5 separate regions of the Homo sapiens genome follow, and regions 2, 3, 4 and 5 are each linked to region 1. The links come from fine-mapping of genetic effects on gene expression. A gene starts in region 1. Each other region holds a variant in brackets. All regions are shown on one strand. Distances are from middle to middle.

Region 1 (6,143 bases):
TAGACAGGTAGAAAAGTAATTATTATCCCCACTATATAAATGAAAAAAACTTAAACATGACAATCTATTCAGGGTCACAAGAACTCACAAAAGTGGGACTAGGATTCAAAGACAGAACCCTGTGCTCCAAGTACCTCTAGTCCACCGTTTGTAAAAGCACAAAGTCTCTGCACTTATGCAGATAGCTCCCCAGCCCCATCACCACCTCTGCCATCCACAGCAGGACTGAGTTCCAGGTGACTCCTCCACAAATACAGAATCCAGGATGAGGAACAAAGGATCATCAAGGCCGGAAAGGGGGAGGCTCAGTACCTGCAGGAGGAATGACGAAGGGAGGAACAAAAGGCCCATGGCCAGGAAAAGAGAAAGCAAGTAAGAAAAGTGTGTATAACATCTCTAAGTCATCTAAGGCTTAGAAATCTTTGCACTTTTACCAGAATATACATTTGCACCCATGTTTACACAAGTGTTAATACTTAAATTTTTATCTAGGAGGAAAAGAGGGCAACCAGCATTTAAGGAGTACTTCCTGTATATGAGAGACCATGCTCAGTGCTTTCTCTTTTAATCTTGGGAGATGGATATAATCTTCATTTTTACAGATGAGGAAATTAAGACTTAGAGAGGTGAAGCTATGTGCCCAAGGTCACAAAGCTTGGACTGGAACAAAAGCTGGTCTGACTGCAAAGCCTTGGTCTTCCATTTATACTGCATTAATAATGCCTTGGGCCTGGTCTCTGCCATCTAGAATCCTGCAAACAGACTTAACCACTCTGTTGGGTATAATCACAGGCCAGAAAGCATTTGAACTAATGTATACTCCAAGGAGAATGGCTAATGGGTAATCTGAGGTACAGTAATTCCCATTTCAGTTATAGTGATTCCCCTTGCCCCAGCCCAAAGAAATAAGAGGCGGGTCTTAAGTTATCACGCACTGCTGCTCCTCAGCAGCAGGCTGAGAAACTTGGGGGAGAAGCAGCCAGCCTTAGGCATGTGTGTATAAGTGATGTTGAGAGTGTGTGTCTGGGTGCTGCCTGGCTACAATGCTGTGTGTGCATTTCTTCCACTGTGCACGTGTGTTTCTGAAAAATGAGATGGAGAGTTAACATGCTGTAGTTTCTTAAACAGATTCCGGTGAACACACATGAAAAACAATCTCATACTTTAATGTTTTAAATTCAGTCTCCATTCATAGAAAACATATGCAGGCCTGTTCTAACAAATATCTTGCAGAACAGCAAGATATCTAAAATAGGTCTGATCTGATAAAAAAAAAAAGAGTGGTAGTTGATAAATGCAATTGAAAGGTTTAGACAAGAGGAGTGTCATATGTAATTAAATCAAAACCTCAAAGTTTCAAATTCTAAAGACAAAGAAAAAATTTTTGCCAAAATGACCTATTTTCTTAGTTATATGATAGTGACAATCAATGTAAGTGTTGTCCAAATAGTTAGACGTCCAGATCTCCACAGGATAACTAGTTCCTTGCTGTCTCAAGGCACAAGAGACAACTCTGGAAGCTTATCTCAAGTACACAACTCTGACTGGCAGGGTTTGCTCGCTCGTCTTTTTAGTATAGTCCAGTTTGTTTAGACAAGCCTGGGGTTAACAGAGCCAAGGTGTGTGTTTCTAACCGTATCACTTCTGTCCCAAAAAGAGGAAAACTCTGTTTACTGGACTCAGGCCACTAAATATCAGATCCACTGCCCATGGAAAGCAGGGTTAGCAACTGTTGATGGATCAATGGAAAATCCAGCAACTCTTCTCAGCGATACAAAAGTCCATGCATTAATGAAACGTTGTGCGGTACATGGAATTTGTAAAGAGGAGATTGATTGTCTGTCTGTAATTGACATTTACTTTATTCTCTGATACAGACTAAGTTGGAACCGTGAGAAAGCCCTTTATTTCTAAACGGCATCTCAAGACCAGGTAATGCTACTTTCGGAGGAAAAGGAGGAAGAAAAGCGTTGTAATGACAATAACAAATTACGGGGGAAACATTTCGTGGAAATTACTCAGTTTAAAAAACTGACCTAGCCGGGCGCAGTGGCTCACACCTGTAATCCCAGCACTTTGGGATGCTGAGGAGGGTGGATCACGAGGTCAAGCGTTCGAGATCAGCCTGGCCAACACAGTGGAACCCCGTCTCTACTAAAAATACAAAAAATTAGCCTAGCGTGGTGGTGGGCGCCTGCAATCCCAGCTACTAGGGAGGCTGAGGCAGGAGAATCGCTCGAACCTGGGAGGCGGAGGTTGCAGTGAGCCGAGATCGCGCCACTGCACTCCAGCCCGGATGATAGTGCGAGACTGTGTCTCAAAAATAAATAAATAAATAAATAAATAAATAAATAAATAAATAAATAAAAACTAACCTACAAATGCTTTTCAGGGCCATTTTAATGATTACCTTAATAAGACTAAATTGTTTCCAATATTCACAGTCACTCCTCAAATTACATGCGTGCGGAATTTCTAAGCAATTTTGTGTAGCTGCAACTTGTTGAGGGAAAGCAATAAAGTAACTCTGCTACAGAACAAAAGCACTTTTGTCTCGTGGTGGTGAGGGGGCATACCCTGAACAAACAACCCCGACAGTGTTGCTAGTTACTAGTTCCCGAATCTCTAGAAGCCTGCACATGGTTCAAGCTGTTCCCCAGCGGACACAGCACAGTACCAGATGTAACTGGAGGCTGAAAAATGTTATATCCCTAGGCTTCACGAGAGAACCCCAGTTTCCTAATCACCATCGATGGCAATGAGACTGAGTTTGGAAAGAACCACGTGTGCAAAGGCAGACGCAACCCGTGCGGCGCTCTCCTGGCCTCTGCGCCCAGCCCGCCAGCCCTCAGCAGCGGACGCAACGCCGATTTTGCATCTAGATTGCTTTTTGCTCCTAGCGGGGAAAAAGGTGGGAAAAGAGCAAGTTGTGCCATACACCCGCCGGGAGAGTCTTGTCCCGGGGTTTGGAGTGGGTCTGGAGCCCAGGCTTGCACGCCAGGCAACCCCGAAAAGCCGCAGGCTAGAGCCCTGCAGGCGCCGCTGCGCCCCGGCCTCCCCACGACGCACGCCCTGGTGACTGCGGCTCGGGGTACCCTCCCTGCGCCCGGACCCTCACTCACCGCTCACGTTCACCCGCGCCGCCGAGCCCGGGAGCGGGGGCCCCTGCGGCTGCCGCATGCCCTCGGGGTCGAGCGCGACGGGGCGACCGGGCGCCGGGCTCCAGCCGGGCGCGGAGAAGCAGCGGAGGACGCGGCGGGCGGGCGGAGCGCCTCCTCTCCAGCGACCCCTGCGACGCGTCCAGAGCCAAAGGAAAGTTTGGCGGTGCGAGGGAGGGACCTAGGGACAGCGGCCCCTCCCTGCCCCGCCCCGCCCCGCCGGGTGCGTTCGACGTTCCCACTGGAGAGCGTCCCCAACCTGCAAGGCCGCGAGCTGCGCTCAAAGGGGCCCGTGCGAGCCGCGGGAGGGCAGCGCTCTTGCAGACGCGTTCCTGCCTGGGATCGTCCCCAGGTGGGTGGTCGGCCGGCCCCGAGAGGGAAAAGCGCCCACTAAAGGACCGCTAGTACCCACAAGCCTCACGGAGCCATACCTCGGAGCTCCGTATTAGAACGCAGTCCCTCTGCCCCTCTGTCCTCAGAGATTTGTTTGAAGTGGCTGCGGGAAGTGCAGCCCACACCCACCACCCCCGTGGGAGGCAGGCTCTACTCCAAGCCCGACCTAACGCTGGAAACCTCAACCCCAAAGCTACCCGAGGGTGCGGACAGCCCCCAGAGGCAACCAACAATATTTAAGGTTCTTGTAAGAGGTTTCTTGGCCTCCTGGGGCAAATAGTCCTGGATACTTTGTTTTTCAAAGCTGAAATATAAAACCTCCACTGACCCACCTTTAGTAAAGAAGAAAGATGCAAAGTAAAACAAATGTCATGAAGGCATTGTTCTCTCTGAATTCTGCAAAGCAATAACGAAGTCACAGAAATGTTCAAAGTTGTGCTTTCCTGGTGACCTTACAAAAAGGAAATACTGTGAGGTGAAGTCCTTCCCACTCAGACTTCAGGCCCTTAGGAAGCAATGAGAGTTGTGTGCCCAGATGTCTTCCTGTGACCCTTTGCCATCCATCCATCCGTTCATTCATTCATCTTGCATTCACCATTAATACTGCGCCCTTCTGTGTGCCAGCTAGGAACCTCATCCTTGCAAACAACCTGTTAGATAATCTGTCCCCTACCATCAAAGAGATTCTGTTTTCTCTGCAGAGGATGTTTTAATAAGGTTACGTCCCTTACTCCGTGGGTCTTATCCTATAGACCATAATAGCCTAATGTGCCTCAAACCTCCCCGGGGCTACAGCTAAGTTTTCATCAGCATGTGAAAATTATTGTTTCATCTAAGTGTTCAGAAAATTATTGCGGTGTCTTGCAGTTGAACTGTGTAGAGAGAAGTACAACTTGCGAAGCTAGGGCTAAAGAAAGATCATGTGTTTACTTTTACAAGCAGAAGCTTTGCATATGATAAAAAAGCTCGGTGGCAAACATGGTGAAAACCCGTCTCTACTAAAAATACAAAAAGCCGGGCGTGGTGGCACGCACCTGTAATCCCAGCTACTCTGGAGGCTGAGGCAGGAGAATCGTTTGAACCTGGGAGGCGGAGGTTGCAGTGAGCCGAGATCGCGCCACTGCACTCCAGCCTGGGCGACAGAGCAAGACTCCGTCTCGGAGGGGCGGGGGTCGGAAAGAGCTCTCTCTGTCAAGGGAGAGAACAGCTCAGCTCAAACATCACGGTGCTGAAGGGCAACCTGGTAAACACAGAAATACTCAACCACCAGCATTTACTGAATACTTGACGCAACAAAGGTGTAGTATGTTGAGTAAGATGTTGCAGGCTAGACTGTAAACACCACTAAGAGCCTTCTTTTGCTGGGAAAATCTGTTCTGAATCCAAACAACTTACTAACAAAGGCACTTGGGAAACACATTATGTTGCATTATGTTGTACCTTGGGAACTTCCTGAACTCGAGGTAATTGCAAAGCAGAACAGGGATCCCACAGAGTTGAATCTGAATCCTTAAAAAAGGAGGAAAGTGAAGAGGGCATGGGGAGCTGTGTTGCAAAAGGAAAGAGACTTTCCAGATAGATGGTTTTTAACAGCTAGATGGGTCAGATGTGAGGGGAAGGCCAGAAGGTGTTACAGAGAAACAGATTCAGAGAGGAAAAGCAGTGATAAACAAACAAACAAACAAACACCTATGGGGAGAAGCAGGAAAAGAAAAGACGAGGCAAACGACAACTAAAAAGAAAGATGTGGCCCCCAATTCCTAGTTTTTAGAAGGTAGCCCAGGGATTATCCACCAGAACCTCCTACAAATCCTTGTTTGGCCTGTGGTGTCTCACTTCTCTACCGAAATGTTTTTATTAGCAAAGCCAAATTAAAATTAACATCAAAATGGCAAGGATGAAGGCTGAGGGTGTATTTTGTCTTAGAGATCACTGGCTGGAAAGTCATTCAAAACTTTCAACAAACATTTGCTAGTCAGCTTCATGTATACAAGTGTTGTGTTTTGTGTTCCTGGAAACACAAAGAGTTATAACGTTGTTTCTATAAGGAGGTAAAAGGGGCATTCCACAGTGCTTGATAGAATGAAATTGTGATGGCTGAAAGAACAATTGGGGGTGGATGTGGTGGCTCACGCCTGTAATCCCAGATATTTGGGAGGCCAAGGTTGGTGGACCACTTTAAGGCCAGGAGTTCAAGACTAGCCTGGCCAACATGGTAAAATCCCATCTCTACAAAAAATACAAAAAATTAGCCAGGCATGGTGGTGTGCACCTGTAATCCCAACTACTTAGAAGGCTGAGGCCAGAGAATCGCTTGAACCCAGAAGACAGAGGTTGCAGTGAGCTGAGATCACACCACTGCTCTCCAGCCTGGGTGACAGAGTGAGACTCTGTCTCAAAAAACAAAGTAAGTTTAAAAAACACAAAACTGCCTGCCTCCTTCCACAGTGAGAAGCAATGTGGGACTCAGGCAAGGCTTCCTCCTCTCTGGATTTATGGAAAGAGGCCATGTTCCTCTGTCCCCAGCTCACCTTGGGGCTTCAATCATATGGGCAGGAATTCACAGATGTGTTGTTCTTAACTTTGGGAAGT
Region 2 (6,143 bases), 30 kb before region 1:
GTAGCTGATTAGGCTTGTTGACAAGTAAGATTTCAAAACCCTTTCTTAGGCAGGGCCTTGGTGCTCTTTGGAAAGCAGGATCGTATGTCTCCGATGTCTTTTCAATGAGAACATTCAATAAGCAACTTTTTTCACATAAAGGGCCCCATCACACATTCTAACCCAGAAGTGAGCAAGCATTTTGCCTCAGGGCTGCTGAAACGGGAACATGATGCCTTGATGCCTTTCCAATCATGCACACACAGATTGAAAACTCACATCACCATCATCACTACCACCACTACCCTCAAGGAAAGAGTCTGAATCCCCATGCTGTTAGCTTTTGTGTTCAACCAAAATCCCAAAGCTGGAAAGGAACACAAAGGTCATCTGGTCTACTCTCCTTCCAAAGAGGATAGCCAACTAAACTTTGCTGGTTCACAGGTGAGCTATTTTTCCACCGCACCACAGCAAGTATTTGTACTCTGTGGGGCCTTCCTCATGGTAATGCACAAGCTTTAAATGTTTCTATCATCACACTTCTGAGTATGCCATTTCTCCCTCTTAGAATGTGTCTTCCTCCAGCCCATGCAAATCCCACCTATCCTTCCAGATTACATCCCAGCCCATTAAGAAGCCGTCTCCACACTCAACAGCCCCTGTCCATCCTTTCCTCTTCTGAAATAAGATTAAGCTCACTGAATTCATGCAACCATGTACCTCTTAGATACTGTTTAATAGACAGTTAATATGTACTTAGAGACTGACTTTCTAATATGTAAAAGAAGAGGGTTCGTAAGAAACTTTAGGATTTAATTTTTTTTTTTTTTTTTTTTTTTTGATACGGAGTCTCACTGTCACCCAGGCTGGAGTGCGGGGGCGCCATCTTGGCTCACTGCAACCTCCACCTCCTGGGTTCAACCAATTCTCCTGCCTCAGCCTCCTGAGTAGCTGGAATTACAGGTGCCTACCATCAAACCCAGCTAATTTTTGTATTTTTAGTAGAGACGGGGTTTCACCATGTTGGCCAGGATGGTCTCAAACTCCTGACCTCAAGTGATCCGCCCGCCTCGGCCTCCCAGAGTGCTAGAATTATAGGCGTGAGCCACCACACCTGGATGGATTTAATCTTAAATGAATCTTTCCTACAAAATATGTATCAAGGAGTAAATGGAAATGTTTAGCATTTTATCATAAAGACATTTAAATCCTCCAATTATTAAAAACATGAGTATTAAGCTATTCATCTCCACATAATCAGAACCAGTGATTAGATGATGGTTAATGCCAGCACTGTTGATTTTTCTAATATACTATCATTTGGGAGATGCTTGTTTCAGGCAATTGAATTCTTACATGTAGTATGTAGGGAACTGGGGGCTTTCTCCCTAGGAAGATACTGTGGTAGGTGCTGCTGTCAAGGAAAGAGGCTCTGTGCTTGGATCCACAGAAATGTTTGGTGCTGCCCCACAAGATTCATATTCTCTCTCTCAATCTCTCTCTCCCTCTCTCTCTCTCCACTCTTCCTTTTCATTCCCACCTTTGGTTACTAACTGTCATAAAGGATAATTGAACTTTGTAACTTGTAAAGAACTTAAAGATGGTCTATGCCACCTGATGAGGGAATCTAACCAAGAAAAGATGAGCTGATGTGCTGCAGATCACCCTTGTAGAAAATGAAAGAATTGGGGGTAAAACCCAAATCTTTCTGTTATCTAGAGAAATCAGGAGCTGGAAGTCTTCAGCCTTACACCACCTAGCTCTTGAGTTTCATTTCCCTCGTCCCTGAACTTCCTGTCTTCCACCAGGTTCCTCTGTCTTACCATTAAGGAACTTCTGAGGTCCTTGACACCAAACTGTCTTTCTTCCATTAACCAATTCCCCAATGTTGTCTTATCTCAATTGCATGACTTCTCTTATCCTACTTGGAAATTTAATTGTTCATTCTGGTTTTTCTCTTAGTCAATACCACACCTGCCAAAACCTCCCAGCTCCTTTCTTTTAACCCCTTCCGTAACTGTTGCAGACAAAATTACATACAAAACTGAAGTTTGTGACCATGACTGTCTCACAAAGGGTCCTGTTCTCTCCACCTAGGATTTTGGAATCCTTGTCTCTATCATGCTGTATACTATATTATAATATGATGAGAAAAGAAAGTTTTCTTTTTAAGCAGGCGGGTAATTTCTCAAGACACATAGCCAAGCAAATGATTATGCCTACAAGTTAAGCAGGGACAGCAGCACAGTTCATTGACACTATCTGTAAATACCAAAGTTCATTCTTTATCAAAAACATCAATATCTTCTCCAGCTCGAGGGGAAATGCCGATTAATGTGAACCCTCTTTTTCTTGTTCTTGTCCATTTTCTTATCAATGTGTCAACGGTGTCAAAGCAGAAGACAGGACAAAAAGATGAGCGTAAAAAGTCCAGATAAATCACAAGTAGCCACAGAGTATGGTGGTAAATATGTGAACTCTAGAGGCCAGCTGC[G/A]CAGTGAGTCTTGGTTAACAGCTGAGTGACTGGACACACTGCTTAAACTCTCAGTTTCTCCATCTGGTAAATGGGTATAATAGTAGCACCTATCTCACAGGGTTTCCATGAGAATTAAATAAGTTAATGTTTGTAAAAACACTTAGGACAATGCTTGGCACATATTAAGCACTATATAAATATTTGTTAAATAAATCCTCAGTTTGAAATTATTTTAACAATCACACTCTGTGTCTGCTGACCCCCAAATCTTACTAGCAGTTTCAGGACCTAGAGGCATTGTGAGGGTTTCTATACCACACCACACATACTGTATCCTCCACTATGAACTGCTACCTGATAATTCATTTTATAATTCCTTCTCATAAGGAGTAGACAGAAATGTACTCCTGAATCTCTCTCAGCAACAGTCCCCATTGCTGCAGCCACACACACAGTGAGAAACGGCCTCTCTGCCTTACAAGACAAGTTCTGTGAAACCACAAAAGTTCTTGTCTGCCCACACATTACAAATTCTACCTGTAACCCAGAATTAGAACTGGGGAGGTGGGGCAATAGGCCACCTACTTCAGAGAAAATAAAACAAAGGGAAAATTCTACGAAACCACATGTCTTCTTGGTACAGGGCTCACAACCTTTCTCTCCTCCCTTTTTTTTTTTTTGGTTTTGTTTTTGTTTCTTAAGACAGGCTCTTACTCTGTTGTTCAGGCTGGAGTGCCGTGGTGTGATCACAGCTCACTCAACCTCAACCTCCCGGGTTCAAGCGGTTCTCCCACCTCAGCCACCCAAGTAGCTGGGACTACAGGTATGCACCACCATGGCCAGCTAATTTTAGTATTTTTCATAGAGATGGGGTTTCACCATGTTGCCCAGGCTCTTCCTTTCTTTCTCAATTTTACTCCAATCAGGCTCTTGGCTATACCAAATGTGATGATCTCAAGATCAGCACAAGTCCACCACTTTGGTAAGGCCAGCAACACCTGGTCTTACACCACCTCTCAGGGGTACCAACACTGCTAATGCTTCCTCTCCTCGATTGCCTTCTTCTCTTTCTTCTAGTTCCCCAGAGTCTCCTGGGTTTTCCATCCCTTCTAGGGCTCCTTTGCTGGCTGCCCCTTACCTCCTGACCTCCTTACACTGGAGGGCCTGCCCTACGGCTCCATCCTTGGTCCTCCTCTCCTTCATATCCACATTCACGTTCATGGTGAGCTCACGCAGTCCTGTGATTTAAAATACCAGTTTCCCCCCAGGACTCTCAAATGTACATCTCCAGCCCAGACCTAAATCTTGAATTCCTGAGTCAAACATCCAACTGTCCACTCAATAAAATTGCCACACCCCTTGGATGTCTAATAGGTTCCTAAATTTAGCTTGTCCAAAACCAAATCTTCCCCCAAAACCTCCTCCTCTTCAGTCTTCCTCATCTTGGTTAATGACATTCCCCACCTTCTCCTCCACCTCTCATCTTCCCCTCTACCTTACCCATCAGTAAATCCTTTAAAAAATATCTGGAATCTGGCCAGGTGCAGTGGCTCACACCTGTAATCCCAGTACTGTGGGAGGCCGAGGCAGGCGGATGGCTTCAGCTCAGGAGTTCGAGAGTAGCCTGGGCAACATGGTGAAACCCTGTCTCTAAAAAAATTACAAAAATTAGCCGGGCCTGGTGGCACAGGCCTGTAATCCCAGCTACTTGGGAGGCTGAGGTAGAAGGATCACTTGAGGCCAGGAGGTGGAGGTTGCAGTGAGCTGAGATTGCACCACTGCACTATAGCCTAGATGACAGAGCCAGGTCCTGTCTCAAAAAAAAAAAAACAAAAAACAAAAAAACAGAATCTGACCATCACCTTCAACTACCATCTGGCCATGGTGATCTCTCCCGAGTACTGAAATACTCTATTAACCCATTTATGCCAGGGGTTGCAAATTTCTTTTGTGAAAAATCAGAACTTGTCAATGACCTTGAGCAGTAGGATATAAATAACTCCCACAAGCTTAGCATTCCAATAATGGAACACTAGGCATAAATAGGTTAAACAATTTTCCTGTTTTTGCTATTGCCTCATTACAGCAGTGTCTTAAAACAGTAGCCAGAGAGATACCATTAAAATATAAGTCAGATCATGTCACTCCCCTGTTTAAAACCTTCCCATAGCTTCTCATCTCACTTGAGACTGGCCCAGCCAACATGGAGAAACCCCATCTCTACTAAAAATACAAAAATTAGCTGGGCATGGTGGTGCGCTGCCTGTAATCCCAGCAACTTGGGACGCTGAGGCAGGAGAATTGCTTGAACTCGGGAGGTGGAGGTTGCAGTGAGCTGAGACGGCACCACTGCACTCCAGCCTGGGTGACAGAGTGAGTGAGGCTCCGGCAAAAAAAGAAAAAAGAAAAAAAAATGAAAAGCTGAAGTCCTTATAACCACATGACCCTACATTATCTGAGTAGCCCATCCCCTACCCCACCAGCTCCCTGACCTCATCTTCTCCTACTCCCTCTGCTCGATCCATGCAGCCATAGTGGCTTCCTGGCTGGTCAGGGCTCCTGTGCTTACCGCTTCTCCCACCTGGAACACCCTTCCCCAGACACCAGTATGGTTCACTCCCTGACTGCCTTCACACCTCTGCTCAAAAGTCATCTTCCAGGCATCCCTCACAACACTTTTTTAAAGTGCAAACGATACCTGCTTAGCTTAGCACTCTCCAGCTCCCTTCCCTGCTTTATTTTTCCTTCCTTCCCTGATTGATTTTTCCACAGGAGACTCATCTTATTTCACTTAATTTGTTTACCCCCATTAGAATACTTATTTTATCTTTCCTTATTAGAGTGTAAGCTCCAGGTGGGTGGCGATTTATGTCCGTTCTTGTTCACTGCTGCATTCTTACTGCCTAGTAAGTGCCTGGTACACCACAGATGCTCCGTAAAGATTTGCTGAATGAATGGGAATGATGGCTTGCTTGGGTCCTCTTACCTACCTAAGACAGTCATCACCGTCTTCATTAGCTTCATGGGTGTCCTCCGGCGGCTGATGGACCCACTTGTATGCGGAGACAAGACGTTGGTTTTCCTCTTGACGTACACGTAGATCCGCAGGTACACCACAACCATGATGAGGAAGGCCATGAGGTTGGACACTGTCCAGAAAACAAGGTAACTCCTGCTGTAAATGGGGGCCAGGGAAGAGCAGGCAGAGATGTTGCAGAGGCAATTCCAGCCCAGTGTGGGGACCGCCCCCATAAAAATGGCGATGGCCCAGACAAGCAAAATGAGCAGTGTCACCCTCTTTTTGGTCAGGTTGCTATGGACCCGCATCCTCATGATTGACATGTGCCTCTCCACGGCGATAACCAGCAAGTTGGTGAGGGAAGCAGTCAAGCTACTGTCCAGAAGCCCCTGACGGAGAAACCAGCGGTTGACAGTCAAAGTTTTTGAAACTGGGCCTGTGTTAAACATCAGGAATACATAGGCAATTCCAGCGAAGAAATCGGCAGCAGCTAAATTAGCCAACAGGTAGTAGAAGGGGAAATGAAATTTTCTGTTTTTGATCACTGCCGCGATGACCAGAGAATTAGAAAAAAAAATAAACAGGCAGAAAAACGTCCCAACACACAAAACAATCACAAGCTTTGTTCCTGTCCAGTCATCGACAGTATCAGTGTTGCTCCTATTATAA
Region 3 (6,143 bases), 34 kb after region 1:
ATTGAGCACTTAGGAGTCACGCCCTATTCTATGCACTTTACGTTTGACTCATTCAATCCTCATAATCCCATTTTATGGATGAGGAAATCTATGCATGGCATGACCTGTCCAAGGAGACTCAGGTAGCAGTAGGAAGAGGACAGCTGAGGCAGACAGGTTGCAGAAGCAAAGTCGTGTCTGCATTATTCCATGGTCCCATGGAAACTATTGCAAACATGTTAGAGAATCAAAGGGAAATAACAGCTCAGGAATGAATTCAATACCAGGCTCTGCATAAATTATGTGACTTAAGTGCCAGTCTTGGTTGAGGTTTATCATCACTTAGAGGAAGAAAGTAACTTGTTCAGGGCCTTAAAGTTAGGTTAAGCTGGAATTTTAACTCAAGTCTGTCTAGATGGCTCTTATGCCCACACTCTCTCCTACCAGCTCAAGTGAAAAAGCTTTAAGATGTTGTATATGGTTTTGACTGTGTCACCACAAGCCAAGGAGTTAAATTCAAGGGTTGGAGATCCCAGAATGAAACCAGCAGGCAGAAAGAATGTGTCTCCTAACTTTCACAGGGAACCCTCTAAGTGGAGGCCTATGATAAGAGAGAAAATGATTTATCCCAGATGCATCTATTAGCAGAATTATGAGACAACATTGTTCAATAAAATCCAAATAACAATACAGTTGATAAAGTGACAATTGTTTAACATTATTAAAAAGGGAGAAAACAATGTTTCTATAGATGTGAGCTAACCCTGAAAAACATTTTTCTTTCTAAAACTGTTTTGTCCAGCTGGAGGGAAAATAAATAAAAGAAAACATGAAAGCCAATAGAAGAATAATATGAGCATGAAAACCCATCATTAATCTTCTATTCAAATGGCAGTCACAGCTGCAGAACAAATGAAAGCTTTTTTTTTTTTTTTTTTTTGAGATGGAGTCTCACTTTGTCACCCAGACTAGAGTGCAGTGGCCGGATCTTGGCTCGCTGCAACCTCCGCCTCCCGGATTCAAGCGATTCTCCTGCCTCAGCCTCCTGAGTATCTGGGACTACAGGCGCCTGCCACCACACCCAGCTAATTTTTGTATTTTTAGTAGATACAGGGTTTCACCATGTTAATAGCAATTCTTGGGTTGGGCGTGGTGGCTCACGCCTATAATCCCAACACTTTGGCAGGCCAAGGCGGGCGTACACGAGGTCAGGAGATCAAGACCATCCTGGCCAATATGGTGAAACCCTATCTCTACTAAAAAAATACAAAAAATTAGCCAGGTGTGGCGGTGCATGTCTGTAGTCCCAGCTACTCAGGAGGCTGAGGCAGGGGACTCGCTTGAACCTGGGGGGCAAAGGATGCAGTGAGCCAAGATCATGACACTGCACTCTAGCCTGGCAACAGGGCAAGACTCTGTTTAAAAAAAAAAAAAAAGAGAGAAAGAAAAAAAATAGCAGTTCTTTTCAGAGACAAAACTAAGTATATGACAATATACTCAGAAGTTAACAAGTGGTCCAATTACGTATCTGATTCTTGGGTCAGGCAAATGACCCCAGAACCACCAGTTTAATGGTGTCTTAGTTTAAAAATCAAACATAACTCTTCACATATCTTGTAAAAAAGAAAGTTTAAAATAATTTTAGCAAAGTACTCTGTGTGTAGACATGAGTCATCTACTCTCTTATATACTTTAATGGTATTAACTGCATGATTTTCCCTGCCTATAGTTGGTGCAGGCATATGAAGATGGGGTCAGAGCAAGGAGGGGGAAGGTGACATGAGAAGGAAAATTGGGTAGGGGCTTGTGGGGAGGGCGACTGAGGCCAAGGAGAAAGAGGAAGAGCCCTGGAAGGAGGGTCCTGCTTAATTCAAATTCTCCTCTTCACCAATAACTTTAAATAGTTGGCCACTGAGATAGCTCAGGTATGAAATAAGTCTATGCATGAAGTGATCTTCATCTCTCAAGCTATCATCATAAATATTTATTGAATAACTTCTATATCTTAGCCCCTGTATATCCTTCACTGCTTTTAAGAAATTGGGAAATCCCTTTTGGAGACCAAGTGGTTAAGAGAGATGTGATCTGAATGTTTCATTAGGTAGTTGTTTAGAGACAATGCATAAAATAGTAAGAATGCCATATGGAATGATGAAAATAAATTTATTTAGAGAAAATATATCATATTTCTTTTCTAGACAAAGGTAAATACCCAACCCAGCAGAGTTCAATTGTTAAAATGAGTGACCGCTGCTACAGGTCACTTCCACATGTCATGTGTGTACAACTGACCATTAGCACAAGTGACGAGGCAGCCAAATGATTCCATTTCTTATTTATCCCACTGGCTATGCCAACAGTTGCTTCATATCATGCTGAAGAAAACCCACAGGAAAACAGGCCAAGAAATGTCCACTGCATGAGCATGAGGTCTTTTTGTTGATTTAAGGGTGATTTTTTTTTTTTTTTGAGACAGGATCTCACTCTGTCACCCAGGCTGGAGTGTAGTGGCACGATCATGGCTCATGGCAGCCTCCACCTCCAGAGCTCAGGTGATCCTCCCACTTCAGCTTCCCAAGTAGCTGGGACTACAGATGCCTGCCATCACGCCCGACTAATTTTTGTACTTTTTGTAGAGGTGGGTTTTTGCCATGTTGCCCAGGCTGGTCTCAAGCTCCTGAGCTCAGTCTGCCTGCCTAGGCCTCCCAAAGTGCTGGGATTACAGGTGTGAACCACTGTGCCAGGCCAAGGGTGATCTTTAAACAGCTTAATAGTTCACCAGCTTGGACTCTCTAGATTGGTATTGCAACCAGCTTCATTTCTGTACAGACCATGAATTAACAAATGTCTTCAAACCCAAGAATCACCTTTAAAACAAATCCTTATTTGACAATAAACACACATATTTAATTACATGGTTAAAGACTATTATTTCGCACACTCTGAAATGATCTTTTTCCATTCCGAGATCATGTCATAAATTAACAGACTAATAGAGAATTTTATTATCGCTGTTATATTGCACTAATGCCCAGTAGTAGCCCATGGTCTATTCTTTATCATTCAAGTTTATAAAAAGTAAAGCTGGAACTTCAGTCATGGTCAGCTGGCTAACTGTGAGTCCTCTTTCCCACTCCACAATTAAATAAGAGAGTCATTTTGGAACTGCTTGTCCAAGTCATTTGGGGTTCCTCTGCTCAGC[C/T]GCTGGATAAGGATGCCTGAACTTTAATCATCTTTAGCAGAACTTTAGCTAATAGGTATCAAGTGATCATCACTTCTTTTCCTGTAACAGAAAGGGAAAGAAGAAAAGAGGAAAGATACAATACTTTAACATCTTTGAGGAGCAATAGGAATACTCTATATTCTAGGCCCGTAGATTATAGACATGTTGAGTGAAACATAGAAGAGGAAGAAAAATTAAGACAGGCAAGGTATTCTGATTATTTACCAACATTCAGAAAAAATAAGTAAATAAATAAATAAAGGCAATGTACACTGTTTGAGGTTTGAGCAGATGCTTTTGGAAACACTGTGAGGAGTCACCTGTCTCTTAAGAACCTCCATGCCCCCAGGGAGGGGAACATCGCACACGGGGAAATGTTGGGGGGTAGGGGGAAAGGGGAGGGAGAGCATTAGGACAAATACTTAATGCATGCAGAGCTGAACCTAGATGATGCGTTGATAGGTGCAGCAAACCACCATGGCGCATGTGTACCTATGTAACCTGCACGTTCAGCACATGTATCCCAGAATTTAAAGTAAAATTAAAAAAAAAAAAAGAAAAATATATGTTACATTTAGGTTTTACTCAATAAATACATTGGTTTGTTTCTGGAAAAAAAAAAAGAATCTCTGTGTCCCTTCGCTAACAAGGCCTTATAAATTACTAGAACAGCCAATTTTCCTCCTTCACTGCAATAGAGGAAGGTAAAGGTTAACTCTGCATCTGTTCAACCAAGCATCTCTCTCCAAAGAACCACATCGCTTTAGAACTGGAAGAGGTTTCAGAGGTCATCTGGTCCATCTAAGAGGTTTAGGAGAGGTCACAGGACACACTTGGTTAATGGCAGTGTCCAAAATGAAAACCCAGGTGTTCTGATGCTCAGGCTAGAGGCTCTGTCAAAAACTCAAAGGAGAATCAAATGTGTGCTGGTTGTTGGACTGCTTTGTTGAAGAGTGACCACAGCCGTGCTCTGCAGGAAGCAGCACTGGGATAGCAGGTGTCATCTGTCATGGTCACCAGACAGGGGGCACAAAAACCAATCTTTGCAGAGATGAATCTTTATGTTCATCTTTAGCCTCCATTCACAGCCTTCCTCAATTTTAGTCCATTCTTCTGTCCCTAGCTTTTATTTTATTTTTTAAGAGGCGGGGTCTCACTACATTGCCCACGCTGATCTCAAAATCCTGGGCTCAAGCAATCCTTCTGCCCTGGCCTCCCAAAGTGCTGGGATTACAGGCACGAGCCACCATAACCAGCCCCATTCCTAGCTTTTAAACACATCAAGCTATACTTAATTTTAGATGGAGTCAAAGCCATCACTTGTTCTCAAGGCCCCATTACAATCCATTTCCTTCCATCACAGCCTAGGCCCTTCATTCACTCTGCAGGGTCCATGCAAGCCCCCTGGGATCTAGGCTTTGGTCTGATGATTCCACTGAAATTGCTATAGCTGACTTCACTCAGGACCATCGTTTGGCCAAACATAGTTACAGCTACCTGTCTTTGTTTTTTGATATCCTCTTTTTCAAAACTTTCATCATCCTAGTTCTTCAGTTGATCTCCTTGGTGGGCTCTCTTGTTCCCTCAAATTCTTTCACTCTTCATGAGGGGCAGACCCTCCGTCTCACCATGCATCTTCTCAACAACCCTCAGCACACTTTAGGGCAAATGGTCTGCTGCTGTTGCTCCTTGCGTCTCACCACTCAGACCCAATCTTACCCAAACGTCTTGGGGTCCACGCCTTAAATCTTTCACTTGTTCCATAGGGCTGCATGACAAAACATTTAACAACCTCCCAGGACTTTGTGTGGCACAAACCAAGGTCCAAACACCAAAGACCTATCGTTTACTTTTTAGAATTCATGACTACATTTTTCAATGAAGTTTATCCCCCTTATAGTAAAAAAGAGATTTTGAGAGACTTTCCTTATACAAGGTACCTCTTAGGAGGCAGCTGCCTATTAAGAAAATTAATTTCCTTTATCCCAGCTTTCACAGCAACAATTTAATGCTCTGAGAAAAAAAGGTGTGATTCTGAAAACAACTCTTCTCAGATCTCATTTTCTATTTACCAGACATTCTCTGGATCTGCTCAGTCATATCATTGTAAGTCCCAAGATGCTGTATGAATTGATTAACAGAAAAATGCATCCTGTGGTTTTAAATAGCAATTATGTTCTCATAGCTTCCTTCAGGAATTTGGGTTACAGAGTCCTTCCAAAAAGAAAAAACATATGTAGGGTATACTTTTAGTTACAAACTGGCACCCCTGACTTCAGATGAAAGCAAACATAGGCACATTAAAAAAAAAATTGTCTTCACCTGACCCCATTCTAGTCCACAAATCACTATGTAATATGCTTTGTCCACTGAGGTCTAGACCATTTCTCTACATGTCCTGACGAACAACAGGCAAAGCACAGCTAGGCAAGGAAGAGCTACTGGTGTGCACGGATAAGCAAGCACTTGGACAGCCTCTTCGCAAGGAAGTTTCCTGCTCTCATCAAGAAAGATTGCTTGTACCACATACTGTGAAAAGGGAAAACACCTCTGACACTCCCAGAGTTTCACCTCTAAAAATAAGAGCTTTGACCTCTTACTTGGGCCACTTAAGAGTTCAGCCTCTTGACTTTAAGGACATAATTTATGCCTTCTCTTAAGAGTCTTATAGTATTTCTAAGAGATTCCAATCACATCGTGTAGCTTTCTACATAACCCTGTTTTAGAAGAAATAATTCATTTCTAAAGCCAATTTCAGTGGGAGGAAAGAAAAGAAAGGTGAATTATTTCCCATGATAAGCTGGTCTCTGAATGTAATGGTAATCTTGGAGGGGCTCTTTCTTAAGACAACAGAACAGCCCATCTCAGGAGCATGGAGAATAAACATGATACTGACCTCCTCCGACAGCAGATGCAGGACAGGAAGGCTGAGGACTCTTTC
Region 4 (6,143 bases), 39 kb before region 1:
CAGATGTTGCCTTGAAAGGGAAAAAAGAAACAAAACTAACAATCACCAGGGACTCTAGAGATCCCCCAACCTCTAGTCCCAACCCTAACCAAAGAAATCTTTCATGCCTTTGGGTCACTCACAGAAGTCAATTCCAGACCCAGGCTAACTCTGTACCACAGATCCCCCCGGCTCAGGCCAAGATAACCACTGGTTAGAACCAGGACACAGGAGGCCTGCATTCCAGGAAGCAATTCATGGCTGATGCGCAGAGTTAGTAAGAGGGGTCCCAGGTGACATAGAACGAGTTCTTGTAGTTACGATCAGCACAAGGACCCAGGCTGAGCCAGTCTGGGTGGACCAGCCCAGAACCACTGTCACCCAGGCTGCCTCTCCCACCCGCTGTGGGCTGGTGAGATGGTGGCTCCCAGCACTGGGAGGAGGGTATGCCCTGGGGCAGGGGGAGCCTTTACCACAACTTGATATATGACCTGGGGCAGGTTTCCATCTCTCTGGGCCTCCATTTCCTCAGATTTAAAATAATGGCAGCATCACCTTCTAAGAGGATTAAACAGAGTATGTATAAATGCCTGGCACAAAGTGGTGGTCAATTTTTAAAAATCCCTTTTTTCTCAATAGAGTTGTTATTAGAAATGAGCTGTTATTAGAAATGAGACAATTATCCATAAAAATGCCTGACAATTCAAAGTGCTTCATAAATGTCGATTCTCTTCCACGTTCTCCTTCCCAGTCCCTCTTACCTTTGTTCTTGTGACCAGACCCTCCACTAACTGCCAGTTCCCACCCCAGGTCCCACCCAATAAGCATGTTTGTTGGCTCATTATATAAACATTTACTGAGTGCCTACTGTGTGCCAGGCACTGTACAAGTGAAAACACACACACACAGTCCTGTCCCTGAGAAGCTCACAGTCGGGTAAGAGAGGCACTTAGCAAATAAATTTTAATAGAGTGGGTTACTTTTATGAGTTAATTCTTTTAATATATAAATAGTATACTACAGAAGCACTGGATAATCAACTCTGCCTTGGGGAGTCAGAGAAAATATCATAGAGAAGGCAGACTCTTGAGTCGGATCTTGAAAGATGGACAGGAGTTTGCCATGCTACAGAAAACTTCGAGGAGCCTCAGGCAGTCACTGCACATGTGCAGGACAGTGAGAAGCTTGGCATGACAGAAGCAGGGGCTGTGTGAGGGGAGTGCATAGAAAAGGAGGCTGGGAACAGGACTGGGAAAGCAGCCTTGTAATCCCAACTAATTTGGGCTTTATCCAGTTTGGAAGAGTAGACAAGAAAAGATCAGAGCTAACTGTGCTTTTTAGGAAAATGCCTCAGCTGGTGGTGGGGGAAGGCCTGGAGCAAGAAAATGCTGGAGGAGGGAATCCAGACGGAGATGACCGTTAGCAACACACAGCAAGTCTTGGACTAAAGGCGTGTAGTAGGATCTGAGACACCACTGAAGTAGATTTGGTGACTAATTTTTTTTTTTTTTTTTTGAGTTGGAGTCTCGCTCTGTCACCAGGGTGGAATGCAGTGGTGCAATCCCAGCTCACTGCAACTTCTGCCTCCTGGGCCCAAGCGATTTTCCTGCCTCAGCCTCCCGGGCCCAAGCGATTTTCCTGCCTCAGCCTCCCGAGTAGTTGGGACTACAGGTGTGCACCACCACGCCTGGCTAATTTTTGTATTTTTAGTAGATGGGGTTTCACCATGTTGGCCAGGATGGTCTCGATCTCTTGACCTCGTGATCTGCCCTCCTCGGCCTCCCAAAGTGCTGGGATTACAGGCATGAGCCACTATACCCAGCCAATTTGGTGAATAATTTTAGATTTGGTGATTAATTGGTTATAGGTGGTGAGAGAGATGGTACTACCAAGACTTCCAGCTTGGAAGGCAAGGCAGATGAAACCCATTGCAGAGATCCTATTTAACAGGTAGAGCAGGTCTGCAGGGCAGCTGAAGCTTGTGGTGCCTCCAGGACATCCAGGTGTGCACGTGACAGCAGCTGGAAACAGAGATTGGGATCTCCTGAAAGGCTGAGGATGGAGAGGCTGCTTTGAGAGACGTTCACATGGAGGGGTTGGTTCAAGCTGCAGGAGTAAAATCACCTGGAAAGAACTTGGGGACCCAAAGGAGAAGGAACAAAGGGCATTTCAGAGATGGTCAGAAATGGGAGAGACTGGACAAGCAGCAGAGAAGGAACAGAAGGAGGAAGACACTATCAAAGGGAGCATGAAGCAAGCAGGCACATAACAGGAAGGTCAAGGTAGATCACTAAATCTGGCAACTAGGAAGACAATGGTGGCTTAATCAAACACAGTAGTATTAGAGTAGTATAGGAAGAAGCTAGCTTACTACGGTTTGAAGTATTAAGAAAAGAAAATAAACAAGAGTAAAAAAATCAGCGGGGCACACTGGCTCGTGCCTATAATCCCAGTACTTTGGGAGACTGAGGCAGAAGGATCGCTTGAGCTCAGGAGTTTGAGACCAGCCTGGGCAACATAGGGAGACCCCATCTCTAAATAAGAAAAGAAAAGAAAAAAAAAAAAAAACCAAGAACAAAAGTCTGGTAGTGAAGGGAGGGAGAGACAGAGCAGTAGTTAGAAGGGGAGTTAAGGTCAGGGCTTACATTTTTGAACGATCAAGCTCATAGGAAAGCAAGAATAAGGACAAGAGTAGGCTCGTGGATCCCCCAGCTCCTGGCTGGAAGGAATGAGCCCTAGTGAAAAGCTAGGATGGTAAGGATGTGACCTGTGCAGGTGGACTCAGATATGAAGGAAGGGAAATTAAGGGAGTTCATGCCAGATGAAGAAAGCAAAGATTGGGAGGTCAGCTGGGGAATGAGACAGGGCAAAGCTCAAAGACCTTGGGGAAAGTGGCAAGGCTTGATTAAGTGTTGCTCTTGCCTGACCCTGCCTCTGAATTTTAGTTCCCATGATGGATCCCTCTTCCTGCTTCTTCTCTCTCTGCCTCCTGCCAGATTTCCATAAGCTCACGCCCCACTGGCCTGCTTCTCTTCTCCTCCCCTGCAGCCCCGATGGGCCTTCTAGCTGCTGCTGACAAATGTGCCTTCCTACAACATCTACCATGATGGACCAGCTCTGCCTCTCTCTGGCATCTGAGCTACCTCCCATCCCCAGATCCTGGGGACTCTCCTATTGTCTCCTAAGTGATCTCTCCCTCTCCAACCCACCTCTCATCTTTCTAAAACCCTGCTTTGCATTTTGCAACTCCCACCTTCTCAACACTCAAGATCCTACATGGGCTCTTTCTTGCCAGATGAGGCAGTTCAGCTGTGGGCTGAAGACTGGCCACAGGCCTATTTAATTGGGCCTGCATGGTCTTTTAACAAAAAATGAAACTGATTGTCTTTACACAGGGCATGATCTGTCTAGTTAGCCACAGGCACCACCCCTCCCTATTTCCTTATATCCACTCCAGACCCAATTCATATACCCATGTTATCTGCCTAGTCTCTCTTAGATATCTGACAATGAAGTCCACAGGACCCTAGGATCCAAGGCCTTCCAGTCTCTGGCTCCCTTATGTCTCTCAAACCAGATTGTCATTACTATTCAAACTCCTTATTCCAGAAATCAGTCTGCCCAGTCTCCCCTTTCTACCCACGGCCCTGGCATGGCCTCCCTAGACATATGTATACCTGTCTCCCACCCTGCCTTTCCTCCTATCTGCAATGCCTTCCCCTTTCCTCTCCACCTGTTACACTGAAATCAGGCTTATATTCTACCTTCTCAAAGAGGCCTCCATGGACCATCCAAGCCCACAGCATTTTTTCAGCCTAGGCCCCCTCATTCAGCCCTTA[T/C]GTATATTTCTTTGTGCCTTCAGTTATCTTTTTTGAGTACATTTCTCATTTCCTCAAATAAGCCTGGAAATAGGGTTCTCTATTAGTCACACACAGGAAAAGCCACACAGAACAGGTCTGCCTCCATGTCATCTATCTCTCATGTGACACAACCGTTGACTCATAAATCTTGGTCATTTCCTGACAACCATAAACCACTAGAGCAAGCACAGATTCACAGTGCCTTCAGGGTAGAGGCCATGTCTCATAGTTAGTACACTGCCTAAAACCTAGCAAGGTAGTCAATAAATGTTTATGATGAGAAAATATAAAATGCAGAAAAAAACATAAAGAATAAAATAGGTTCACCACTGAGCAGTAAATTCTCTGACTTGATGAAAACAACGCCTGTTGTGATTCACTGTCACTCAGGCATCCAAGGACAGGTATATTTTGCCAAGGCAAGAAGTTGGGACCCACTAGAAGAAGCAGGAACTAGAAGGTCCAGAGCTGCAGCCACAATGCTGCAGTAATTTACAAAGTGAACTTGGTCAAATCTCTCAACAGTATTGATTCTTTGAGGTAATGGGATCTTTCCGCCACATACTCTGCAGAGTTAACAACAATCTGGTGGTGAGGGAGAGCAGGTGGCTGGGCTGGAGGGACAACTGTCAGTGCAGGAGGGAAGATGACTCCTGCCAATAACTCTTGGTTCCCTTACCCCTTATCCCAGCTTCTGTGTTGATCCCTAGGTCCACGACAGGGCATAATTCCAGCAAACACCCTTTACTCCCAGTTCCCACCCAACATGTTTGCCATAGATACACAATGAACATAGTAGTCCCCAGCTGAAATTTTCGAAGTACAATGTTAACATGGAATTTGATAAAATTCTACCATTGGCCAGCACACACCATACTATTCCAGATGTTGAATTAGCCCAGTGATATGACGCCTGAGTCACAGACGATGACCACATTTCTCCTTTGGCAGAAATCAAAGCCCTAAGAGAGGGTGTTCCTGAGTTCTGGAACATGAAACCTTCCAGGAGGCTGGGTGTTGGCAGGAGGGTTGGATGTAGTTGGGTACTGGAACCTCTCCCTATACCTTCTTTTCAAAGAGGTCAAATTTGAGAAATGTTTCTCCACCTTGCACTCAGAAAATATTCAATAATTGTTTGTTTCAGCTTAAGAGGAAGGTTTCAGTTTTCTAAAAAGAAGAAAAGCCAGAAGTTCTGAAGAAGGGGGCATGAGAGGGGAATAAAAGAAGCTGAGTGCATTTGGTGTAATGGAACTGAAGGGGTCTGGACCAGAGGAAATGGAAGAAGTAAGAGGGCAGGGCAGTGGTTACATTGGAAACAAGAACACTGATTTGGGAAAAGCACTTCTAAACTGACTGCCAAGGGAGGTGTCTGAAACAGTGGCGTGGGGGGAAAAGAAAGAACCAAGAGCCAGACTTGAGGTAACAAATGGCTACATATGGCAGAGACAGAAGAAAGAAGACAGACTCCTGGAAATGTGGTGTTGGAAGAGGTGTCAAGATGGCATTTGAACAAGTGGGATGGAGTGCCATATGAGGGATTTTCTTTTTTAATTTGAAGCTGTCTTCCTTCCAGCATCAGACACTGAGGTCATCTCAGTCCCCACGTTCCCCGTCAGAACAGGAAGGGATGTGTCAAACAGCAGCGTAGGGGCAGCAACTGAGTGGCAACTGCATTTTTGCACCCACCGATTGACGGCCTGCCCTGAAAACAATGCCTCCCTCCCATAGGCCTCTGTAGCAATGCCATGAAGCACACAGGAAAATCATCTGTGACAAAGGTGCTCCTGGGACTAGCCATTTCAAGACAAAAGTACGAACACCCCCGGACTCAATGTACTGAGTACTGGTGCCTGGATGGCTTGACTCTGAAAAGAATCACCCTCCTTCTGATATGACTCTCTGCACAGCAACAAGAGAGCCCCTGTGTGCCAACAATCTGTTCATTTCACTCAGCATTTCTTAAGGCAAAGCTTTAACTGTTTTCTTTTTTTCTATTTTAACAGATATTTGATTACTAAGGCATGCAGGCAGTAAACATTGAAAGCAGGCTTCTGTGTTGCAGAAGCAACTACAAGGCCACAGAAGCTGAAAACAAATGTTTCAGAATTCCTCACGAACTTAGGCACATGTACTTTTTTTTTCTCTCTCTCTCTTTTTTAATGGAGTAAGGACAGTTCATCGATGAAGCTTATGAATAATACCAAAAGGCCTGTGTTTTGGTCCCAACTCTTTTCAGTCACAGGGCAAACTTTCCAATCCTAGCAAAGGTGATAATAGCAGCTGACGAACTAGCTACTCTCGAAG
Region 5 (6,143 bases), 50 kb before region 1:
TCTTAGCTCTTCCAATTACTGTGTGACCTGGGGTAACTTATTTAACTTCTCTGCTTAGAATAGGAATGGTGATAATACATACTTCATATAAAAATTAAATAAGTAAATATCCATAGAGTGCTTATTTAAGCTCCTGGCAAATACAATTATATAAGTGCTTGCTTCTATTTTTAAACAGGGTGTCACTCTGTCGCCCAGGCTGCCCAGTGGCAAAATCACAGCTCACTGCAGCCTTGAACTCCTGGGCTCAGGCACTCCTCCCACCTCAGCCTCCCAATTAGCTGGGACCACAGGTGTGTGCCACCACACCTGGCTTATTTATTTATTTATTTGTAGAGATGGGGGTCTCACTATGTTGCCCAGCTGGTTTCAAACTCCTGGGCTCAGGCAGTTCTCCTGCCTTGGCCTCCCAAAAGTGTTGGAATTACATGTATGAGCCGCCATGCCTGACCAGTGCTTGCTTTTATTAGCATTAGTGTTAATGAAGAAACCAAAAGCACTTGTAAGACTAAATGAGTATCATTAACGCAATTTCACAGGCAAGAGGAACTGATCAAGATAAAGTGACAATTGTCAAATATGTGCTGGTCCTAGAATTAAATATCATCACCCCAAAATTTGTTACAAAGCATCAAATATCTAGCTTAAGGATTCCTTTAAAAAATCTTATAGAAGACTTTTAACAATAACAAAAACCAACAATGGCAGATGAATGAGTTGGCTCCTTGCAAACCCTGAAGAGGAAACAATCCAGAAGTATCAGTCAGAGCCCACTTACTTATACAAACAATAAACTTTTATGCATAAGGACCAAATTTATAATAAAGTTACAAGGAAATGTTTCCTCAGATTTTGAGAATGTTTAGGACCAAAGAAATGCCATTTTATGAGGAAACTTTTCTGAACAATTTAGTCATTGACATTGAAAAAAAACTGCATCCTCAGACTTTGACAGGGGATTAAGTTGTATATTCTTCAAAGTGAAGCTGATGCCTCTTTAAAACAATAATTGTGTTTAAGAAAAGATATAATCAAAGGAGCCAACATTGTGCCAGGATTTTGTAGTGTAATTAAGTATTGCATCCCTTGTCAGGGACACAGTCTTTTGCTCAAAGATTACTGGAATAGAAACCCCATTTCCTGAAAACAGTGGCCGGTTTTTACCAAAGAAGATACAGAAACACAGAAAAGTTTTATTCACTGTAGACCTTCTTCTGAGCAAGCCAAAGCCTTGATCCTCATGTCTACAACATATTGAAAGGCTCACTGGAATTTCCTTGTGAAACAGTTACCAGACCTTTTACCTCAAGTGGTAACCAGTCCTTCAGTTTTCAACAGTTATCCAGGCTTTGGCAATGAAAATAATAAGTATTCACTGAGGGATCCTTTCTTTCTAGATCACAGATCAAAAATGAATTCCCGAAACTCCATTTCCCATTTTTGTGATACATATTAAATCCTACTTAAAACACAGCATAATCATGAAAATTTGTATTTACTTAAGAGGTTTACAAGGACAACCGACGGCCCCTTATGACAATTAAGGTTTGCTTTACTCATTATTAAAAACATTTTGAAACAAAAAAACCCATTACAACTAAAAATCTGGACAGTCCCTGGATTAGGCTGTGGAGTTTGTCCTTTGGAGGAAAAGAAAAGTGAATGAAACCCCCATGAGAGTCTAGGAAATTCTCAGTGGTTCCTGTCAGTCTCCAAGCTTCTATGTCTATACTTTCAGGTCATTTAATGTTACAACTTCATGTTTTGAGATTAAAATCGACACCTTCTATTCAATGTTATACCAGAAAAACTAAAATAAATAAATAAACAAAATAGACATCTACAAGTCAAAGATTCCCTCTTCTATGGTAACTGCTTCTACCTGCACACCCCTCTCAATCAAACTCCCGTGTGTGGCTACACAAACACATATCCTCCATTCATACGGTAACACAGGTGAGGCTCCTGACAAATGTGATTTCACTCCTGACCAAAATTGTTAGCTTCAAAGCACCTGAGGCAGAGTGGTCTGCTCATAAGTCCTTCCCTGGACCCCAGCTCTGGCCAGACTTGAATGATATAAGGGTTGGCATATGATTCCAGTCTGGAGCAGCAGAGTCCATTCCCAGAAAATTTGCAAAAGAAAGAAAGAGAGACCTTGATATACACACTTAGGAGCTACTGGCTGCCATGTTCGGTACAACATAAGCAGAAGAAGCAGGACAGAAAAAAAAAAGTTTGTAGGGGAAGAATAAAATTAGCACATGGAGAGAAACTCAGATGAGAAGTGAAGAGAAAGAATTTCCTGAATAACACAGGGCTTTCCAACACCTAGTTCCAGGATGTTCCTTAGGCATGGTAATCTCCACACCCTTGGGTTGTATGAGACACTAGTGTTCCTCTCCTTTTTCACTTAAGCTGACGTGAGTTGGTTCTTGTTTTTGCAATCAGAAGTATAGTTAATACATTGAATGGACTTCTACATTTAAGTATAGGGCAAGAAATTGAAACACACAGTTCCTTCCAGATAAGTCATAACCACCACTATCGGATCAATCATTTGCTATAGTTCTAGAGTCCCAAACAAAAGAAATTCAGTCACTGGTCAAAAGCCAAAAGGTTTCCAGGGTTTGAAACAAACCTATAACGTATGGTTATGCAAGCTGAATTTTAATCATGCAAATGAATGAGCAGAAATCATTTTCCTTACATTGCCTTTAGCTCCATAAGTTATAGGTTTGAAAAGATGTTTTAAAAGAAATGCACTTAAGTAGATTAGTTTTCATTTTGATAAAATAAAAAGTATTAGTGCAAATTATAAACTTCATCAGTCTGCTTATTCATAGCACTCTTAAAAATTGTCTTCTGAAAAAATTTATCTGCTAAAGTACTTACAAGTAAGCACATTTTTTCTTTATGTAGGCAAATAAGGGTAGACTTGGGAGTTCTTTTCAGAAGTAGAAGATAATCATAACAGTCCTATGTTTGAATTTCAAGTTCAAGATCACATTTGGCATGGATTTCAAAGTCTTCCAGGGGTGCTGTTTTGTTCACAAGGAGGTTTTTCT[T/G]GTTTGAGCTCTCTTGCATAAGACTCTTGGAGGAGAGCAAAGAAGAAAAAAAAAGATTCCCTACATGTTGAGACATGGAAGAATTAGATTGCAGGAAATGAAAGCCACCCAATAAGCAGTGCTTCAGTCCCTGTAAGCATTCCGTCAAGGCAATTTCAATCCTCCCCTTAAAAGATGAGGTCTGAGAGGGGGAGGACCAAGTACTGAAGAGAAAGTGAGCTTCCGCCTTGGTCTTCATGCTGCTTAAAAGTCAATCAAGCCTGGGGTGGGGACAGGGCTGAGCCACAAGTGCAACGCCTGTGGAGGGTCTGGCCTGCAGAAAATCTAACTCCTGTCTTCACCTTCACATTTAAAACTCCATTTCTTCTTTTGTTCCTGTCCTCTTTTGCCCTCCACACAGCTATGCCTCATCTCCTGCTCTCAGGCCAATACTGGAATCCTGAGTAGGGGGTAGTAGTGTACTATTCTTAGACATCCAAGAAACTTCCCAGGCTTGGTAAGTGAAAGTTTCTCTTTGTGACCACCTTCCAACAAACCTCTTTTTTCAACTGTGATTTCTTCTCTCCAATGGTATTAAAACACATTTAATGAACTGGGTTCTTACAAGGCAAAGCAGCAGAAGAAGGACTTGCCAGTCATGAAAGTGTGTTGGTCTAGACTTTTCCAAGCTGGAGGTGCAGTGGGTCTATTCTGCACTGGTATAAGTTTCAACAAGGACAGTCTTGAGCTAGGGAGAGGGGTTGCGTGAAACGCCACACCTGCTGGGTGTTGGCAGAGACTCGCTGATGGATTTTACTGGTTAAAATACTACCCTATGCTAATAACATCACTTTTCTAAAGAGATCTAAGTGCTTCACAAGTTCATTTGCCCAAACATGGCATTCTATAAAGAAAGTAAGTAGCCCAATTATCCTCTCCGGTAAATCAAAAGTCAGTGCAGCTTTGGGGCTATTCCTGGAACCCATCAAGCTGGCTCCTTTCTCAGGCCTTTTGCATCTGCTGTTGCCAGCTCTACCTGGATGGGCTCTCCCAGGTGGCCAGTGGGCTCAGTCTACCCTGCATCTGGGTTTCTGTTTAAGAAGTCCATGACCACCCAGTCTAAAGCAGCCTCCCTACCTGCATCCTACCACCCTTATCTCTCTCCCCACTTTCTTACCAGAGGTCTTAACAATTCTTGACATTCTGTTCTAATTTATTTGTTGATGGATCACCTGCACTAGAATGTAAGCTTATGAAGCCAGGGACTTTGTCTTGCTCATCACTGTGTTCCCAGGGCCTAAACAGGGCCTGGCCCATTGCAGACCTCAGCAAATGTTATATGAATGAATGAATAAGAATGGTGGCCAAATATCTCAATTTCTAGCTTAACATGTGCTCACTGCCCTGTCAGCTTTAATTTACTCTTCTATGCTTCCTGCCCTTGGTTTGCTGACAGGCACTGACAGACAGCTAGATAGTTCTGGTCTTTTCAAATGTCTTGTGCTGCAGCAGAAATGTTTCATTTAGATGTGTGTGAATTATAAAAACCTGATGTTGATGGAAAGCATAAGGAGAAAGATTTACTGCACTGTTTGTGGGAGTGGAGATTGATGCAATCTGTTGAAGGACAATTTAGAGATAGCTTAACAAAATTTTAAACATGCATTTTCCTGACCTACTAATTCTTGAATAAATACAATTCACAAAAATAGACCCAGGAATGCTTGGAGATGTATATAAAACGACCCTCATTGCAGGGATATTTTAATGGCAAAAAATTAGAAATAGCTCATAAAATATCATCAATCAGTATGTAATACAATGTAGCCTTATATAGCCACTGAAGAGAATTAGACATATGTTTATACAGACATGAAAAAATATTCGTATGTTGTCAAGCATAAAAAGATGGGGAACTATTATGACTATTAAGAACACATTTCTGTACAAAAATCATTACTCTGTGAGTACTATACACACATACAACCCCGACCCCGCCACAGTCTTTTATTATTTGCAGGGAAAGTGTCTGCAAGCCAGCATATTAACCTGTTAACAGTGGTTCTAAAATCTCTAAAGAGAGAACTAAGGGGGACTTCCACTTTCTAAATCATATATTCTACAATGTGTACATTTTAGAAACAAGCAAATTACATCCACAATAACAAAAACAATTAAGATTTTAAACTTCATTTAAATTCTAGTGCCAAAGCACTTCAATATTTATAAAACTATTTAAATTCTGAGCTCTGGGCCCAATGTTCACATTAACAAATCTGGTAACTCCTCCAGGCTTTATTTATTCCTGATCCATAAAATGAGGCTAAAAGTGCTTTTCCTTCTACTGCTTAGGGTTATTGGATGGCTAAATAAAATCAATGGGAAGAACATTGAAAAGCATTTTTAAATCACTAAATTAATTCCAAGTGGCCATTATATACATTGTTTAAGCTTCTTGTTAGCATTCTACCTGTATTTCATTGACTCATAAGAATACACTCTAGGAGGGATTTGTGTTACGACTTTTACAGATGAGGAAACTGAGGTGTAGAGAAAACGAATTTCTTTCTTGGAAAGCAGAACTAGAATCAAACACTCAGACTTTATCCCACACTTTATTCCTCTTCCATCTCCCACACTACTCAGAGCAGGTAGGTATAAAGGCCCTGTAAACTATAAATCTGTCAAACATGAAAGGGACTAGGATTATAGTCAGGAGCAGTAATAAGCACCTTTTGAACTAGAAAAGAAAACTGCAGTGAAAAAATTGTATGTTTCTTATCCTGCACTGTGTTGGTCCATCATTACCAAAACCAATTAATCTTTTTAATTACGCTCAAACCTTTTTATGCACTCCAAATTAGAAATCAGAACAGTTTAGGAAAACCTCTCCAGAATATATATTCAAGGTTTTATAAAAAGAAAAGAAAATGCAGGCTTTGATAAACTCAACATGTATTTACTTGAGGAAAAATGAGATTTTTAGAAAAAAGTAGGGGCAAGTGAATTCACCAAGCTGTGAAAAGTATACTTTATCCACTGGGAAGTTTCTGTGAGTTTGCTTGTTACAGGAATACTAGCAATATATACAAACAA

Direction of the effects. Alleles are on the strand shown, and positions count from the first base shown. SD is a standard deviation of normalised expression in the study named. Not every link is listed here.
In carriers of allele T in region 5, the expression in unexposed skin of the gene that starts at base 3,313 in region 1 tends to be lower than with G alone (small effect, 0.29 SD a copy in GTEx).

What was found.
Region 2: its variant is fine-mapped to the expression of LPAR3 in whole blood (INTERVAL, PIP above 0.99).
Region 3: its variant is fine-mapped to the expression of LPAR3 in blood mononuclear cells (TOPMed, PIP above 0.99). The same link has a PIP of 0.9 or more in ileum, monocytes after R848, spleen and whole blood.
Region 4: its variant is fine-mapped to the expression of LPAR3 in whole blood (TOPMed, PIP above 0.99).
Region 5: its variant is fine-mapped to the expression of LPAR3 in unexposed skin (GTEx, PIP above 0.99). The same link has a PIP of 0.9 or more in minor salivary gland and sun-exposed skin.

The regions. Positions count from the first base shown.
Region 1 is chr1:84,889,894-84,896,036 of GRCh38, forward strand. It overlaps LPAR3 (lysophosphatidic acid receptor 3), which reads right to left and starts at 3,313. Exons shown (of 3, transcript NM_012152.3): 1 at 3,123-3,313.
Region 2 is chr1:84,859,940-84,866,082 of GRCh38, forward strand. LPAR3 (lysophosphatidic acid receptor 3) reads right to left here. Exons shown (of 3, transcript NM_012152.3): 2 at 5,446-6,143. Among named protein-coding and RNA genes, the nearest start is that of LPAR3, 30 kb to the right of the region's middle. The variant G/A (reference allele first, on the strand shown) is at 2,474.
Region 3 is chr1:84,923,460-84,929,602 of GRCh38, forward strand. It overlaps MCOLN2 (mucolipin TRP cation channel 2), which reads right to left. Exons shown (of 14, transcript NM_153259.4): 13 at 6,099-6,143; 14 at 2,124-3,262. The coding sequence ends at 3,226. Among named protein-coding and RNA genes, the nearest start is that of LPAR3, 33 kb to the left of the region's middle. The variant C/T (reference allele first, on the strand shown) is at 3,182.
Region 4 is chr1:84,850,576-84,856,718 of GRCh38, forward strand. All of the region lies in intron 2 of LPAR3 (lysophosphatidic acid receptor 3), which reads right to left. Among named protein-coding and RNA genes, the nearest start is that of LPAR3, 40 kb to the right of the region's middle. RefSeq lists an enhancer at 3,848-4,097. The variant T/C (reference allele first, on the strand shown) is at 3,819.
Region 5 is chr1:84,839,773-84,845,915 of GRCh38, forward strand. All of the region lies in intron 2 of LPAR3 (lysophosphatidic acid receptor 3), which reads right to left. Among named protein-coding and RNA genes, the nearest start is that of LPAR3, 50 kb to the right of the region's middle. The variant T/G (reference allele first, on the strand shown) is at 3,069.